Homo sapiens: one gene and its partner. The protein of the gene in region 1 purifies or fractionates together with the protein of each later gene. This does not show direct contact. Each region holds a gene or a part of one and is shown on either strand. Other genes may lie near its edges. The genes, in order: ZNF69 and ALDH1A2.

What was found.
Region 2: the proteins of ZNF69 (region 1) and ALDH1A2 purify together in Homo sapiens (affinity purification with mass spectrometry; one large-scale study listed by BioGRID and IntAct). This does not show direct contact.

Annotation. Positions count from the first base shown.
Region 1 is NC_000019.10:11,893,985-11,897,805, forward strand, and holds part of ZNF69 (zinc finger protein 69), read left to right. Parts: intron 1-3,821.
Region 2 is NC_000015.10:57,996,017-57,999,837, reverse strand, and holds part of ALDH1A2 (retinal dehydrogenase 2), read left to right. Parts: intron 1-3,821. UniProt on the Homo sapiens protein: Catalyzes the NAD-dependent oxidation of aldehyde substrates, such as all-trans-retinal and all-trans-13,14-dihydroretinal, to their corresponding carboxylic acids, all-trans-retinoate and all-trans-13,14-dihydroretinoate, respectively.

The DNA of each region.
Region 1 (3,821 bases):
TAGTGGAGCAATTGCCTGCAAAGCAAGATATGCATGGGGGTACACAGGGGACACAATGCAGTGTTGGTGGGAAATAGTCATTGAGCACTTCTCCTTTCCTCTCATGTGAAATGTTCAGAGAATCACCACCAGACACTCCCGTGTGAAAATTTGTATGCATCTCCTCCTTTCATCTATCCTAAAAACAGAGATCTTTTTTTTTTGAGACAGAGCCTTGCTCAGTCGCCCAGGCTGGAGTGCAGTGGCACGACCTCGGCTCACTGCAAGCTCCGCCTCCCGGGTTCATGCCATTCTCCTGCCTCAGCCTCCTGAGTAGCTGGGACTACAGGAGCCTTTTAGTAGAGACAGGATTTCACCATGTTAGCCAGGATGCTCTCTATCTCCTGACCTCGTGATCCACCCGCCTTGGTCTCCCAAAGTGCTGGGATTACAGGCATGAGATACCCCACCTGGCCTAAAAACAGAGATCTTATCAGATTGTCTTTTGGTTGAGGCTCCCCTTTGGAAACTTCAAAGGGTATTGTGTCTTCAGCACACTCTCCTATGTTTTCTTGGTCCTGGGTGGTAGAATGGGGTGACCTAATATTCCCACAGCTGCCATGTCTCTTGGAGGGTCTAGTGAGTATCAGCCCCTGAGTCACTCCTCCCAGGGGACAGACTGAGGTAGGAGAATGGGGACTCCCAAGAGAGCAGCTGAATGCCTTACGATGGAAGGAGACTCCTAGTATACTCTGCATCTAGATAGCCAACCCCTCGAGATGCTCAGCTTTTCTTTCCCAGTCCCAGTTTTCGTAAGTTGGAGACACATGGCTGGTCAGCCAGTTGGATGGTGCTATTGAGGGAAAGGAGAAATGATTCCTGTCCTCTGGATTGTGTCAACTGTGAAGGAAGACAAAACCCCAAAAGACAAGGAAAGCCCACCCCAACGGGGTGGACCAGTAGCCTGCAAATCAGAATATGAAATTGAGGTTCACAGCGGGGCATAGTGCGGTGTTGGTGGAAAGTAGTCATGAGCGCTTCGGTGAGCAGGATGGGGGTGGAGAGATGTCTCATGTGATAGGGTGACCTGTGCTGACACATGAGTCAGACATCACTGTGTTCCAGCCAGTATTGCCCCTCTGTGGGCTTGTCCCTTGTAAAGAATAGTTCATAGATTGCAGCTTGAGTATTTCAAATTAACTTTACGTTGCATTTTTCACTAGAGCCAAATCCAAGAATGATTGCATAGATCAGGTAAGACACAGAAGAGGCAACTCAACAAAGCCCATGACATACAGTGCATGGCTCACAATCCCAGGAGATGAGGGCAGCACAGCTGCAGAGCAACACAGAGTGGGGAGAACATCCAGGATGCACATTCAACCAGCAGGTGGGGAGCAAGACAGACAGGGACCTGTGGGCCAAAGCGTTTCTCAGGGTCCAGGGAATTGAACAAGGAGACGTCGCTCAGGGAGTTGTTTCTGGTGGATTTAGAGCAAGCAGGCACTAGTTCTGTGAAGTCATACTGTGATTAAGAGGTGGTCTGTACCATCCATGTGGGGTGTAAGGGTCAGTGGTACAAGTCAAATTGGTTATATCTAGCTGTCCCACAGGGAGGTGGTCACCAGAATGCAGTCGTGTAAGAAATATATGTGAGTTGACCACATGGAGGAAATGGGAGGAGGTGGAGAACTAGAAACTGTTAAGTTTGAATAAAGTTTTTTTCCGTTATGAGAAAGTTAAATCCATAAAGAAAATGCATGCTAAGGTAACATATAACTATAAGAACTCAGTATAAGAGGCAACTCTAGAATTAATTAAATTATTGTATGTGGAGATGATGGGTAGTAAACTGATTATTCTCCTGTAGATAACCATTTGTCGCTGCTTTTTCTGTTAAGTGTTCACCACTTGTATCATTGGCTGGCAATACCTGGTTTGTCATAGTTTCACATTACCTTAAACAGATGCCCAGACTGGGCATGGTGGCTGACGCCTGTAATCCCAGCACTTTGGGAGGCTGAGGCGGGCGGAACACCCGAGGTCAGGAGTTTAAGATCAGCCTGACCAATATGGTGAAACCCTGTCACTACTAAAAGTACAAAATTAGTCAAGCGTGATGGTGCATGGCTGTAATCCCAGCTACTTGGAAGGCTGAAACAGGAGAATCACGAGAACCTGGGAGATGGAGGTTGCAGTGAGCCGAGATCACACCATTGCTCTCCAGCCTTGGCAACAAGGGCGAAACTCCATTAAAAAAAAAAAAAAAAAAAAAAAAAAAGATTCCCTGGTTTCACAATTTGCTGTTTTCCATTGGTCTATCTTTCCATCTCTCTGATAATACCATTTTCTCTTAATTAGTATAACGTTCAAAGCTGTGGTGTTTAGTGGGTATATTGCCTGTCTATCTTAGTCATCTTGGGCTGCTATATCAAATTACCATAGACTGGGTGACTTAAGGGATAAACATTTATTTCTGGCAGTTCTTGAGGTTGTGAAGTCCATGTTAAGGGAGCTGGCAGATCTAGTGTCTGGTAAGGGCCCGCTTCCTGGTTTTGCAGATGGTCATCTTCTTGTGTTTCTTCATGTGACAGAGGAGAGGAAGCCGGCTCTCCTGTGTCTTCTTATAAGAGCACTAATCTCATTCAGAAAGGATCGACTCTTATGCTGTCATCTAATCCTAATTACTTTTCAGAGATGTCAACTTCTAATACTATATTGGGGGTAGGTTATTAATGTGTGATTTTTTTGGAGTGATGCAAATATTCATGCCGTAACACCCCCCAACCATATTCTATAGAGCATCTTGGCTATTCTTAGTCATTGTCTTGTATTTCGGTTTTTAGAAGTAGTTTTTTCTTAATTTTAGTGAAAAAAACAAACTGCCTTGTAAATTTCATGGACTAAAATATAACTGTAGTCATATTTCAGAAACGTTACATCATAGTGCTATTTAATCTCCTTTTAAGGACACATGACATTTTTTCATTTATTTCATTTTATATTGATGTTTTTCAGTGTAGACTTTTTGCATAATAATCATTTTATATCCTTCCTGAGACTTTTTTGGACTTGAAGAAAATTAGTTTTAATAGAAATTAGTGGCTGGGCATGGTGGCTCATGCCTGTAATCCCAATATTTGGGAGGCTGAGGTGGGTGGATCACCTGAGGTCAGGAGTTCAAGACCAGCCTGATGAACATGGAAAAACCTTGTCTCTACTAAAAATACAAAATTAGCCAGGCCTGGTGGCACATGCCTGTAATCCCAGCTACCTGGGAGGCTGAGGCAGGAGAATCACTTGAACCTGGGAGGCCAAGGTGGCGGTGAGCCAAGATCACGCCATTGCACTCCAGCCTGGGCAACAAGAGTGAAACTCCATCTCAAAAAAATAAAAATAAAAATAAAAATAAAGAGATTATTCCAGCATCGGCAACATGGCAAACTTTGCCTATACAAAAAATTACCTCGTCACTGTGATGTGTGCCTGTAGTCCCAGCTACTCAGGAGGCTGAGGTAGAAGGATCTGTTGAGCCTAAGAGTTCGAGGCTGCAGTGAGCTATGATTGCACCGCTACACTCCAGCCTGGGCAACAGAATGAGACCCTGTTTGAAAAAAAAAAAAAAAGAGTCAGGTGCGGTAGCTCACGTCTCTAATCCCAGCACTCTGGGAGGCCGAGGCGGGTGGATCACAAGGTCAGGAGATCGAGACCATCCTGGCTAACATGGTGAATCCCCGCCTCTACTAAAAATATAAAAAATTAGCCGAGCGTGGTGGTGGGCGCCTGTAGTCCCAGCTACTCGGGAGGCTGAGGCAGGAGAATGGCATGAACCCGGGAGGCGG
Region 2 (3,821 bases), on another chromosome or scaffold:
CCAGTCTATCATTGATGGGGATTTGGGTTGATTCCACGTCTTTGCTATTGTGAATAGTGCTGCAATGAACATACACATGCATGTATCTTTATAACAGAATGATTTATATTCCTTTGGGTATATACTCAGTAATGGGACTGCTGGGTAAAATGGTATTTCTGGTTCTCGGTCTTTGAGGAATTGCCACACTGTCTTCCACAATGGTTGAACTAATTTACATTCCCACCAACAGTGGGAATGTAAACAAAGTGGGAAATAGGAACAGTGTTCCTATTTTTCCACACCTTTGCCAGCATCTGTTGTTTCTTGACTTTTTAATAATTGCCCTTCTGAGTGGGGTGAGATGGTTTCTCATTGTGGTTTAGATTGCATTTCTCTAATGATCATTGATGATGAGCTTTTTTTCATGTTTTTTGGCTGCGTGACTGTCTTCTTTTGAGAAGTGTCTGTTCATGTCCTTTTGCCCACTTTTTAATGGGGTTATTTTTTTCTTCTAAATTTGTTTAAATTCCTTGTAGATTCTGGATAGTAGACCTTTGTCAGATGCATAGATTGCAAAAAATTTCTCCCATTCTGTAGGCTGTTCACTCTGATAGTTCCTTTTGCTGTGCAGAAGCTCTTTTGTTTAATTAGATCCAAATTGTCAATTTTTGCTTTTGTTGCGATTGCTTTTGACGTTTTCATCATGCAATCTTGCCTATGCCCATGTCCTGAATGGTATTGCCTAGATTTTCTTGTAGAGTTTTCATAGTTTTGGGTTTTGCACTTAAGTCTTTAATTCATCTTGAGGTAATTTTTGTATAAGATGTAAAGAAGGGGTCCAGTTTTAATTTTCTGCATATTGCTAGCTAGTTTTCCCAGCACCATTTATTATATGGGGAATCCTTTCCCCATTGTTTGTTTTTGTCAGGTTTGTCGAAGATCAGATGGTTGTAGATGTGTGGTCTTATCTCTGATTTCTCTATTCTGTTCCATTGGTCTGTGTGTCTGTTTTTGTACCAGTACCATGTTGTTTTGGTTACTGTAGCCTTGTAGTATAGTTTGAAGTCAGGTAGCATGATGCCTCCAGCTTTGTTCTTTTTGCTTAGGATTGTCTTGGCTATATGGGCTCTTTAGGTTCCATATGAAATTTAAAGTTATTTTTTCTAATTCTGTGAAGAATGTCAGTGGTAGTTTAATGACAATAGCATTGAATTTTTAAATTACTTTGGGCATTATAGCCATTTTCATGGTATTGATTCTTCCTATCCATGAGCATGGAATGTTTTTCCATTTGTTTGTATCCTCTCTGATTTCCCTGATTAGTGGTTTTTAGTTCTCCTTGAAGAGGTCCTTCACTTCCTTTATTAGCTGTATTTCTTAGGTACTTTATTCTGTTTGTATCAATTATGAATGGGAGTTTATTCATGATTTAGCTCTCTGCTTGTCTATTGTTGGTGTATAGGAATGGTTGTGATTTTTGCACATTGATTCTGTATCCTGAGACTTAGTTGAAGTTGCTTATCAGCTTAAGAAGCTTTTGTGCTGAGACAATGGGGTTTTCTAGATATAGGACCATGTCATCTGCAAAAAGAGACAGTTTTACTTTCTCTCTTCCTATTTGAATGCCCTTTATTTCTTTCTCTTGCCTGAGAAAGAACTGGCCAGAACTTCCAATACTATGTTGAATAGGAGTGGTGAAAGAGGGCATCCTTGTCTTGTGCTAGTTTTCAAGGGGAATGCTTCCATCTTTTGCCTGTTCAGTATGATATTGGCTGTGAGTTTGCCATAAATGACTCTTAATTATTTTGAGGTATGTTCCATCAATGCCTCTACTTTATTGAGAGTTTTTAACCTGAAGGAATGTTGAATTTTATTGAAAGTAGCCTCCTTTCTTTGTCCCTTCAACTCAGTGCTCTTTTGGGAAGAGTTCAAGCACAAAAATAGCGTTTATTTTTTAATTTGCTACTTAGACTAACTGTAGGGACTAGAAGATTCTGTCTCTTTCCCTGTGTTAGCCTGTAGCTAAATGCTTTTCAAATATGTGAACGGTTTATCCAAGAGAGTTTTAATTCCTCATAACTCAGTTTCTCTTGAGACACAATTATGGAGTCAAACTCAATTCCTCATGAGGTCCGACTTTTAAGATTTTTGTCTACATTTTCTTCCCTTTCACTTTTTTCGGTAACTTGTGATATTATTTAAGTAAAACAACTAAATGTCTAAGCATCATAAAATGTGTAGGGGGAAATGGTTTATGAATTGCCATGCAGTGCTTGTGTAGTTGCCTTGTGAGTTTTTTTTTCTGAACCATTCCAGGTTCCTACATGTGCTGCTAAAATAAACACGTGTACTCTTCTGTTCATCTTCCAATTTTTTTCCTCAGCCCCATTTGCACTCTTTCTTGACATTACTCTCTGATTCTGTGGTCTGTGACTATCCACCTGAACCCATCACCTTAACCAACTTAGAGAGTTCAGTTGCAGAAGATTTTCTTGTAAATGAAACTCTAGCTTATTGATCAGTGGTGTTGCTCCTCATGAAAAACCTTTTCAGAGATTTACAAATTGAAGAAGCATGGTAATTTGTAGTCTTGTAAAGAATGATATCCAGAAGATTCTTTAGTTATCTGCATACAAAGCTAAATAGTTAATTTGATGTTTAAAGTATTACTCAGACTTCATACTGTCATCCTATGGACAGTTGCAACATCTTCGCTATTTTTTCTCGTAATAGATATTTTAAATTAATTTCATACAGTTGCAGAATCCAGCCTACTTCTGAATTTCTTCCATTTAAAATATACATAAAACAAAGTCAAGAGATAAGTAGCAGATTGGGGAAAAATCTTTGCAATATTATGACAGAGGCCTAATTTCCTTAATATCCATAGAGCTCTTCAAATGGCTAAAAAGAATAACCCAATAGAAAAATAGCAAACAATATAAGCATGAAAAGATGTTCACTCTATCATTAAACATAAATCAAAACAAGTTGCAGTTTTCCAGCTATCAGATTAGCTGAAATGAAAATGTTGGAAAAACCTCAGTGTTAAAGAGTAGGAAAAATAGCGTGTTGTTGAAATTATGAATTGTTAAACTTTTCTGAAGGGTGATTTGGCAATATTTTTGAAAATCTGAAATGTACATACACTTAGATCAAGAAATTCCACAGATATGAAAAGATATGTTTGTAATGATAGTCTTTGCAGCATTATTTATAATAGCCTAAACTGAAAGTGACTTCTATGTCCCTTAGTAGGAGGGTTTACAGTAGTAACATTGTTTATTGAGCCCATGGAATAACCTGCAGCCACTAAAAAGACGTCCTAGCTTTACAGGAAAAAAAAAAAAAAGAGGGAAAAACAAAATATAAAAGACTGAATAATATCCCGTTTGTATAAAAAAAAAGAGGATAAAAGGATCCTATAAATACTTGTATGTGAATAAAAGTTCCTTGAAAAGAGGAAACAGATAATTATGGCAAGAGGGGGTAGAGATCAGAGATCCAGAGGATAGAGAGTGACACTGGGAGAGTAAGAGAGAGAGAGAGAGAGAGAGGCCAAGACTTTAATGTAATTATTTAAAAAATAAATAATTTTGAATATGTCAAAACAATTTTGTGTGATAAATGTGATTTAGGTGTGTTGAGAGACAGTGATAAACAATCTGATTCATATCGCTTCTCTTTTCCCGACCCACACAGTCCTCCTGTCCCCACCTTCATTTCCACCTATAATAGTTATGCTTTCATGAATATTAGCTGAGTGTTTTCACTTGCCTTAGGGGACTGCTTTTGAGAGAGAAAACAAGTATCAGTGAAGTGGCCTAAGGGCCGGCAGT